2 linked regions of the Homo sapiens genome follow. Changing the gene in region 2 together with the main gene of any one other region gives a genetic interaction. Each region holds a gene or a part of one and is shown on either strand. Other genes may lie near its edges.

Evidence for each region.
Region 1: changes in CDK8 (region 2) and HCRTR1 together harm fitness less than expected from each alone (positive genetic interaction), as found in Homo sapiens cells (one large-scale study listed by BioGRID).

The regions. Positions count from the first base shown.
Region 1 is NC_000001.11:31,623,122-31,628,311, forward strand, and holds the end of HCRTR1 (orexin/Hypocretin receptor type 1), read left to right. Parts: intron 1-401; coding exon 402-628; intron 629-1,875; coding exon 1,876-1,997; intron 1,998-3,668; coding exon 3,669-3,859; 3' UTR 3,860-4,492; downstream 4,493-5,190. UniProt on the Homo sapiens protein: Moderately selective excitatory receptor for orexin-A and, with a lower affinity, for orexin-B neuropeptide. Triggers an increase in cytoplasmic Ca(2+) levels in response to orexin-A binding.
Region 2 is NC_000013.11:26,392,916-26,398,105, forward strand, and holds part of CDK8 (cyclin-dependent kinase 8), read left to right. Parts: intron 1-451; coding exon 452-595; intron 596-3,369; coding exon 3,370-3,439; intron 3,440-4,237; coding exon 4,238-4,310; intron 4,311-5,190.

The DNA.
Region 1 (5,190 bases), on a different chromosome or scaffold from region 2:
AGTTCAAGACCAGCCTGGCCAACGTGGTGAAACCCCATCTCTACTAAAAATACAAAACTTAGCCCGGTGTGGTGGCGCACACCTGTAATCCCAGCTACTCGGGAGGCGAGATTGAAGAGAGCCAAGATTGCACCATTGCACTCCAGCTTAGGTGACAAGAGTGAAATGCCATCTCAAAAAAAAAAAAAAAAGAAAAGAAAAGAAAATGAAAGTCTATCGTTCACTCTCAAGTCCAGAGTGTTAGTCTATCATAAACATTAGATTCCTTCCTCTTGCAAGGGTTTTATCCTTTTGCCCATCTCCACCCTGCCCGGGGTCCAGCCTGGAGTAGGCCCCACAAAAGGCAACCACCCTCCCAAGGTGCTGTACCCACCACTGCTGTCTCTATGTGTGCTGGACAGATCCCCGGCACCACCTCAGCACTGGTGCGGAACTGGAAGCGCCCCTCAGACCAGCTGGGGGACCTGGAGCAGGGCCTGAGTGGAGAGCCCCAGCCCCGGGCCCGCGCCTTCCTGGCTGAAGTGAAGCAGATGCGTGCACGGAGGAAGACAGCCAAGATGCTGATGGTGGTGCTGCTGGTCTTCGCCCTCTGCTACCTGCCCATCAGCGTCCTCAATGTCCTTAAGAGGTGAGAGCACGGGGTATGGTTGGGGTGGGGAGAAGTTTGAGGTTGGGGAAGGAGCTCTCCTTGCTTGGGAGAAAGACCTGGCTCCACCCCTTCTCCACTATGTGATCTTGGGCAGGCCATTTCTCTTCTCTGAGCCTCCATCTCCTAGGGCTATCGTGAAAATTCACGCATTCATTCACTTAATCATCACATTTTAGGGGGCTGGAAATACAATGAACAAGTGCATAAGACAGACAAAGTCCCTGCCTTCATGGAGGCTGCATTCTAGCAGGAGAGAAGGGAAGTAAATAGAAGAATCAATGTATATTATAATGTCAGGCAGTGATAACTGCTGGGAAGAAAAATAAAATAGGACAGAGAGTGACAATGATAAGGGTTGGTGGGTTTTTGCTTTTGCTTTAGATACAATGGTTTAAAAAAAGCAGGGGGCCGGGTGCAGTGGCTCACATCTGTAATCCCAACACGTTGGGAGGCCAAGGAGGGAGGATCGCTTGAGGCCAGGAGTTCAAGATCAGCCCGGGCAACATAATGAGACTTCGTCTCTACTAAAATTCAAAAAATTAGCCAGCCATGGTGGCATGTGCCTGTAGTTCTAGCTACACAGACTGAGGTGGAAGAATAGCTTGAGCCCAGGAGGTTGAGGCTGCAGCGAACCATGATTGCACCACTGCACTCCAGCCTGGGTGACACAGCTGTCTCAAAAAAAAAAAAAAAAAAAAAAAGCCTTTCCAAGGAAATGACATTTGAGCAGAGACTTGAAGGAAGTGAGAGAGCTAACCATGCACGTGTCTGTAGGGACAGCCAAAGAGGGTCGCAGGGCGCTGGGGAGAGAATGCAGGCTATTGGACAGAAGACAGTTTCACTTTGAGATTGTGCTTGGCCACTTCCTGGTTGTGTGATCTTCGGCATGTCACTTTACTTCTCTGAGCCTCAGTTTCCTTAATGGAAAAATGGATGATGTCTATGATTCATCATGTTGCTGTGAGGATGGATGAGAAAGTGGATGGGAAGCCCCAGGGGATCCGATGGCCAGGAGGCTAGAGATGCCCATCACGGTGCTTGATACCCTCCATGCTTGAGAACCCCAAACCCTGGCCAAGACCTCAGGTACAGAAGGCCAGGAAACGTGGACAGAAGTGGGCAGTAGGAACTCTTGCACTTTACAGCTCAGGTTCTGTGAGCAGCACTCCCCCAGTACATGCATACGCAGCTACCCCATTTCTGACGCTCCTCCACCCTGGGCCTAGGGTGTTCGGGATGTTCCGCCAAGCCAGTGACCGCGAAGCTGTCTACGCCTGCTTCACCTTCTCCCACTGGCTGGTGTACGCCAACAGCGCTGCCAACCCCATCATCTACAACTTCCTCAGTGGTGAGCAGGCTGGGGATGCAAAATGACTGAGGGTGGCCAACAGTCCACATGACAAGTCTCCCCATCCCCAAGCCAGGGCCCAAATAAAGGATGGTGGGTGAGGATGTACCTGCTGTGGGCACAGTGATCCTGCTCTGGGAGGACCCACCCCAAGCGGCCCTGGCCTGAGTGGGAGACGGGCCACACTCCCTACAGTGGCTGGCACCCAGGATCCAGTTTTGCAGATTCTGCAGACCAGTGAGTGAGTGGAAGGGCAGGGGCTAGGCCAGCTCACCCCCAACTCCCACCCTGGGTGCAGGCACAGCAAGACCTCCAATCAGCTCAGGCAGAGGAGTCCATCCTCCCCGGAGGGAGTCAGACCTGTGGGAGGAGGGCCCTGGAGCCCCTGCCCGAGGAAGGATTGCACAGTCCAGGTGTCAGGGCTAAAGTAGGGTCACTCTGAGAGACAAGCCAGGCCCAGGGAAGGGCTTCGCCGGCTCAGCTAGACACACTGGCAGAGTGACCGGAATCTCAGGGGTTGTCCCCTCTGGAAGTCTTCCTCCCCTGCCACCCCCACTCCCACTCCAGGCCTCTCCTCTCTGCTGTCCCACAGTGCCCACCCCCTCCCTCTACCTCCCAGTCTCAGGGTGGTAATGGCTCTGAGGCTGAGCTCAGCAGAAGTCTGACTCACCAGCCCTCTGACTTTGGGAATAGACTTCTAAAGAACAGGTCCAGATGACTGTTGAAGCCTGGACAGAAATAATCTTTGAGGAACTATTAAAAGGTTAAAGAAAGGATCAGGAGTCAATAGTATAACCCTCATTGAGACTCAAGAATTACTCAACAAGGCTGGCTGCGGGTTTCCAGGTCAGAAAAGAGAATAGATGATGAGCTGTGTGGGGAGGGGAGGGCAGACAGACTTACTGACACATATGCCTTTGTTTGGCCTATGTTTACTGAGCACCTACTATGTGCTTGACCCTGTGCTGGGCACCAGAGAGGCTGGCAGCCTAATGACACATGATCAAAGGGGCTTCAGCCTGACAAAATCTGTTTCCCTGGTATACTTGGGCTGAATAATGTGGTGTGGTGGTCCCTCCTTCCCTCCTCCCCCTTGAGAAGGGCTTTGGAATTAGAATTGGGTTCAGCTTCTGGCTGGGTGGACTTGGGCAAGCCACTGTACCTCTGTGCATCTCATCTGTGAAGTGAGGATAAAGGACTCCAGCCTTTCAGGGTGCTGGGATGCTCTGGCGGACAGAGGCTGAGGCGCCCAGCACAGCGTGACTGCCAAATGCAAAAGGGCTGCTGCTGCCGTCATTTTCATCATCAAAGGGCAGAGAGGACACAAGCCTCGCAACAGATAGTGACCCCCACGTACACACCAAGGAGAGCAGAGGTGACCTGAGGCCCCCGAGCCAGACACCACGTTTTGAGTCAGCCTCCGAGCCAGAGCACAGTCAAGGAATCAGATGGCAATTGCGTCTCTCCTTGGGAACCCGCTCCAGGGCTTCTGTCCTCTCTCTCTGGCGGTGCCGAGGTTGCCTCAGGGCTCTCCCTCCCAGCTCTATCCCTCCCTCCCTCCCCGCCCCCTCATAGGCAGCTTGGCTGGAGCTGCGTGGGTGTCCCTGGGCTCAAGGCCCCTTCCTGCTGCATCTGTCTCCTTATGGCTGTGTCTTTTGTCTCCCAACCAAGGCAAATTCCGGGAGCAGTTTAAGGCTGCCTTCTCCTGCTGCCTGCCTGGCCTGGGTCCCTGCGGCTCTCTGAAGGCCCCTAGTCCCCGCTCCTCTGCCAGCCACAAGTCCTTGTCCTTGCAGAGCCGATGCTCCATCTCCAAAATCTCTGAGCATGTGGTGCTCACCAGCGTCACCACAGTGCTGCCCTGAGCGAGGGCTGCCCTGGAGGCTCCGGCTCGGGGGATCTGCCCCTACCCCTCATGGAAAGACAGCTGGATGTGGTGAAAGGCTGTGGCTTCAGTCCTGGGTTTCTGCCTGTGTGACTCTGGATAAGTCACTTCCTCTGTCTGAGCTTGTGTCCCCTAAGCAGGGTTGATGTGAGGATTAAGCATGCTGAAGCAAGTGGAAAGCTCCTTGTAAACTGTGAAGTGTTGTGGACATGATTATTGTTGTACTTCTCTCATTTGGCCATACCCCACAGTATAATCTGTCCCCATCCTCCTTCCAGAGCTTGGTCATCCTCCTAAAGACCCCTTTCCTACCCAATTACAGGCCTTCCCTGGAGTCTGCTCTAAAGGTCCCAACAGGCATTTCCATCTTGTTCCATGGCTCCCTGAAGCCCAGGGCTGCACTTGGCCAGCTGTTCTGATGCCTGTGTGAACTAATCTGGGCCCAGCCTTTCTCCAGCGGGCCACGAGCACAGCCCCACCCTAACCAGGTGCCAAGGGCACACACCACAGACCCGACCTTGTTGGCTTTGTGGTGTGATAAAACACTCTCCATGGCCACTTGGCAGAGAGGCCAGCAGCCCGAAGCAACTGTAATTAAAAGCCTGGCACTGAATGTTCCCTTTCCTTGTCATTGCACAAAATCTGTGCTGCTTAGGTTAGGAGCAGAAGAAGGTGGGGAAGCTGGGGGGAGGGAAGACAAGAAGGCACTAGAATGCTCTTATCTGCTGACCTCCCACCCCCACCACACGGGATCCCAGATGGACTCAGCCAGGCCTCGGCACACGTGGTGCTGCCTCCTCATGCGGTGCCAATCCTGTGACGCCGGGACCTCACCCCTCGACACAACTGTCTGCTCACAGGCCCAGTGGCCTGGGGAAGGTAAGGGGGGCCGGGTGGGCAGATAGCGGGTTAACAGGCTGATTTACTGTTATCTTCATCTTCTTGGAAACCAAGGCTTGCGCCTATTTTCTATGAACTCACAGGATAAAAAGAGAAAGCCACAGACTTGGCCAGACATGCTCCGTCTGCCACCGAGATTTTAAGGCTGCCAAAGGCCCTGAGCCTTGTTGCCAGAGAAGGACGTGGAGTGCAGCCTGAAGTGCTACTCTGCTGAGAGGAACAGGGACATCTGGCAGGGGCCAGCTCTGCTATGCATACCACCAGGTCTGCTTAACTTGATTAATAGAGCTGTGGGCTCCCTCTGACCTCAACCGTCAAGAACGTGGGCAGAGCCCTGGTGCTGCCAGGGGCCCAGCCCAGGAGTGTTGAAGCACTGCTCCTCCTAAGCACCCCGCTTTACCCAGAGCAGGT
Region 2 (5,190 bases):
ATTATGTTAGGCGAGTGCCCAATTTCAAATACTGTTTGGGTTTTCCGTTTGTTTTTGTTTAGTTTTCTTTGGTTGTAGTTCCCATGCTCCATATGCAGCTTTACTGTAGTTCACAGAAAAGGTATCACCTGGACATTGAAAACTCACCAAAATCCAGCCAGTACATTTAATTGGGCTTAGAGTGAAACCATTTGGGTGGTATGGAGGTATACAGAATGAAAAATCGGGGTGGAGGGCATGGGAATATATACTTATAATAATGTTTCATGGTATTTAGTAATTATAATTGCTTAGGAATTAATATGAGTTATTAGGGAAAGAAAGAAAAAAACACTCCCCAAGAAAATAAAATTGCATTTTCTTTTGGAAAGAACCACTTTATTTTGCACCTTTCTTTTTCTTTTTTCCTTGCCTATTTTTCTTTCTTTTTTTTTTTCTTTTTGTTTTAAAGATATTTGGGCTATAGGGTGTATATTTGCAGAACTACTAACGTCAGAACCAATATTTCACTGTCGACAAGAGGACATCAAAACTAGTAATCCTTATCACCATGACCAGCTGGACAGAATATTCAATGTAATGGGATTTCCTGCAGGTACACATTATTCGTTTTTGTTTTTGTTTTTAAATCACTGTTGTTTGAACTTAGATGTCTTCGTTGGAGAGGTATATATTTTTAGCTGATGGAAGCTACTTTTACTTGAGTCTTTGTTTTTTGACTTGCATTTATCAAAGATCCGTAGAAACAGCAAAATTTGTAGAGTTTACATATTGGCATGGAAATATTTATGGGTTTCCTGAATTTCAGGACTGTATTTTTGTTTCATCTTGTTTTACTTTTTTGTTTTGTTATTTGGTATTTGAAATGATAAAATATGTTCAATATCTGTATTAAAAAGGTACCTTTAGCTCTTACCAGTAGAAACTATAAATGAATTCAGTAGTAGGAATTTTTTTCTGGCAGCACATATAATACTGCCACTATTTGGCATTCAAATATAAATTTTGAACCTTATTTCTATTTAGGGCACTATACAGAATCACATTATATTGAATAATAGCATTTAAGTCTTCTCTTAGAACAGTCACAATGTGGGTGAGAGTCATAGTACCCTATGGTGAGTTAGCCTGCTGTTTTGCAACAGAGAGATGGTTTACATGTATCCTATCCCTGGTATTAGATCTCTCCAACTGTATCTCAATCCCTAGTTATATTACAGAACGGTAATCACCAAAAACTGCTCAGAGGTCCAGAATAATGAGAATTTGTTTAAAACACCTAAATTTTGGCTAGTCAAGTACTTAGTAGAAAGTGTTTCTTATTAGGAATATTTCTCAGGTCACTATAAACTCAAGACTAATAGAGATAATACCTGGGACTTTTAATTCTACATTCCCTTGTAAGGGTGTTAATTATCAGTAAATGCAGAATAACTACACAGATACTGCCTTTCTCCAAAATTGGTCACCAGTGTGGAGAAGACTTCTGTTGTGATGGGAATTTTATTTATTCAGTAAATATTTATTGAGTACCTGCCATGTGCCAGGCACTGTCTTAAGTAAAAAGTTATTGATGATGTAACAGACATGATTTTTGCCCCCTTGGAGTTTGCATTGTACTGCTATATGTAGAATGTTTAAAAAGTAGGTATGGTTTTGAGTAGAGACAGAAGAATTCTGTTTTCTTCCTGCTTCTGAATGTGTCCACCATTTCTGAGCCCACGGGAAAGGCATAGCTTCTGTGAGGGAGTAGATGTGGTGAAGATGTCTATCAGTGACTCTTAATATGTGGTTCAGAGGTTAGGGTGGTTTATAAGGAAGCTTGGAAAGCAGGCAGCAGAGGTTAGATTTGATAGCTAAAGAATGAGAATCCATCAGTTCTTGAGTACTAGAGACATGCTTTATGTTGCATTTTAGAAAGATTTAGTAAGATGGTGGTAGGTAAAAATCTGTTAAAAAGAGCTAACTGAAATCAGAAACCAGCTGTAGCAGTGCTGCAGACAGAAAGTAGAGTGAAGATAAGGATGGAGAAAAAAGGGCAGATGGAAATGTTTTATAGGAAGTGTATAAGCAAGGGAAAACTAAAGATTATCTTAAAATTTCTAGCATGAGAAATTGATAAAACACAGAAATTGGAGCAAGGAAAATAGTTAAGGAGAAAATTCCATTTAGGAGTGTAGTGTATGTTTAGTTTACAATATGTGATGTCTTTGGAGGATAGTTACCAAATATTTTTACAAGTAAGTTCAAAGAAAAGCAAGCCTCTAAAGGCCATTTAAAAGCTAAAGGTTTTGCGAGGCCGCGGTGGGCGGATCACCTGAGGTTGGGAGTTTGAGACCAGCCTGAACAACATGGAGAAACCCCGTCTCTACCAAAAATACAAAATTAGCTGGGCATGGTGGCTACATGCCTGTAATGTATTACAGGCATGGGATTACATGCCTGTAATCCCAGCTACTCTGGAGGCTGAGGCAGGGGAATCACTTGAACCTGGGAGGCAGAGGTTGGGGTGAGCCGAGATCGCACCATTGCACTCCGGCCTGGGCTGTTAACAAGAGCGAAACTCCGTCTCAAAAAAAAAAAAAAAAGAGCTAAAGGTGCTGTTAAGCTGCCTGTGACAGTCCTTTGCACCTAGTAGACTCTCAGGAAAACCCATTGGCAGATATTGGAGAGAACACATTATGTAGCATGTATTGTTTGAGCAACTTGGATGCCAGCAAAAGTAGCTGAAACGTTTTGTACTTAACGTATTTAGGAGCTGGGGTTGTTTTGGGTAATGTTAACCAGACTAGCCAAGGTACCAGCCCACTTATTAATATACTAATTATATCCTACCCTATTGTGCAAATAGTTATTACCCCTTCTTCCATTGATTGCTTATGTAAAGAAATATATTTAACAAGGTGAAAGGAGGGCTGTATCATAAAAAGAAGTATAGTTTAAAGCCACTGAGGGGAAGATCTTAGATTTCTCATTGAAGAAATTGATTGCTGACTTAACCAAGAAATTTGGTAGAAAAGGGGAAATAAGCAGTTTTACTAATAGAAAGAGGACATTTAATAAGATAAATAGAAATATGTATAACTTATTCTTCTCTAGTGACAGAAATTGAGGCAGCTTATAGTAAAACATACAGAAAGTTTGCAGTTTAAAATTTAAAATATAAACAGATATATAAAGTTATATAAGGGATAAGGAATTATGTTTACACTTCAAGATATTTACTGTTGCTGAACATTTATTTGAAGACAGCTTTTTTGTGTGGAGGTTGAACGGATAGGAAATGTAATGAACGTGGTAATAACCTTTTTAAAAATTCTCAAGAATAGGAACTTAGGCAACATAAAAATTTATCAATGTATTTCACAGATAAAGATTGGGAAGATATAAAAAAGATGCCTGAACATTCAACATTAATGAAAGATTTCAGAAGAAATACGTAAGTTGGAAAAAAAGAGACTCCTTGTTGATTTTTGCTTTACCAGAATACTCAGTGTAAGACTGAATATTCAACATAATAAAATACTCAATATAAGATTACTCTAATAAATAATTTTACTTATTTACTCTAATAAATATTTTTCATGATGACAGTCTTTATTTCTTAAGATGCTTAAATGATTATATACAAAAGTGACTAATATTAGCAGCTGATTTGGATATAAAACAAATTCATGTCTTTCCATATTGACTACTTTTTGGAAGCTAGACATTAGTGAGAAGTATCACAGCTGAATAAATAAGAATCTAAATAAATAAACTTTGGTAATAGCCACTTGCTCACCAATCTAGGTTACAGTAATTTTAAGCAGGTTTTAACAGAGAAGAATGGATATTTCACCTGTTTACAATGCAAAGCCAGGGATTGGGAGAGTTTAGTTTGTATACCTATGACAAAAGTATTTTACACTTATTGGTAAGGCTGAATTAAACTTTTGACCCAGATGTTATTTAAAATAATTGTTAAAATATAATTCATGTGAAAAAAAAAGCTGTTTAGTGTCTGTTATTCATGAAATTGTCTTACATTTAATCATCGGTATCCTTTCAAAAGTGACCATTGTGGATATTGAATGAAATAGAAAACTGATTTAATTCTACTCATTTTATGCTCATAGTGTTTTCAATATATATTTTATATCGGTTATGATCAAAATAATTCTCATCAGAAGGACTTTAGCCAATGTACAATTAACCTCAAGTCTAATATAGCTATTTCATAGTATTTCTCTTTCAGGTATACCAACTGCAGCCTTATCAAGTATATGGAAAAACATAAAGTTAAACCAGATAGTAAAGCATTCCACTTGGTAAGCATTGGTTAACAGTATTAATGAAATGCATTTTTTCCTTAATTGACTAGCCCAACTGAGGCTTTTTTGGATCAATTTATGTGGTTACTTAGCTAGCACTCAGAGTGCTTTCATGGTAAATGCAGAGATCTTGTTAGTGCATACCAATAAAGACAATAAACTATTTGCTCTTCCAGACTCATATCATGGTTTGACAGACTAATGTTTGGTCACATTAGATTTTCTAAAGATAGCGATGGTAACAAATCTGTCAAAACATTTATAAAATTACATGTATTGTTTTTCGTCTGTTTAAGATTTTAAAAGTTCCAGAGAAGTATCAAGAAGAAAGTACTTCTCACCATTGATAAATAGATTGTTTTGTATTTCAGCTCTTTGAAAGACTGTTTACAAAGTTCTTAATTTCCAAAATACCTCTTATAACCTTAAATGTTAACAGTCATTCAGCGATTATATGTGCTATTTGATTTTTCTGGAAGAATGTGATAGATGCCATATTTATCAGTGTGTAATGGAAAAATGATTTAACCTAGAATCTAATTGAATCCGTGCACTAACAAGGTAATTTGTGATGAAATTATATACAGCCATTACCAACTTTGTTTACAATAAAATTTCCATTGTTACAGCGTAATAATTAATAATGTTTTTTGTTTTAGAAAAAGGTTTATAACACATAGAAGGGGAGTTTGGGGAAGCAGGTTGTATTTTGCTTGGCTTGAAATTCTTTTAATCCTTATTCCTAAGTTCTTAAATGAGAATTCTTTCACCTTGAAGAGGTTAACCTTTCCTTTATTGCAACCAGGCCATTTGGCAAACATTTCTTCTGTTCTTCCTTTGTTTCTCCTTTTTCTTCGCTTTCTACTGCTTCTCCTTC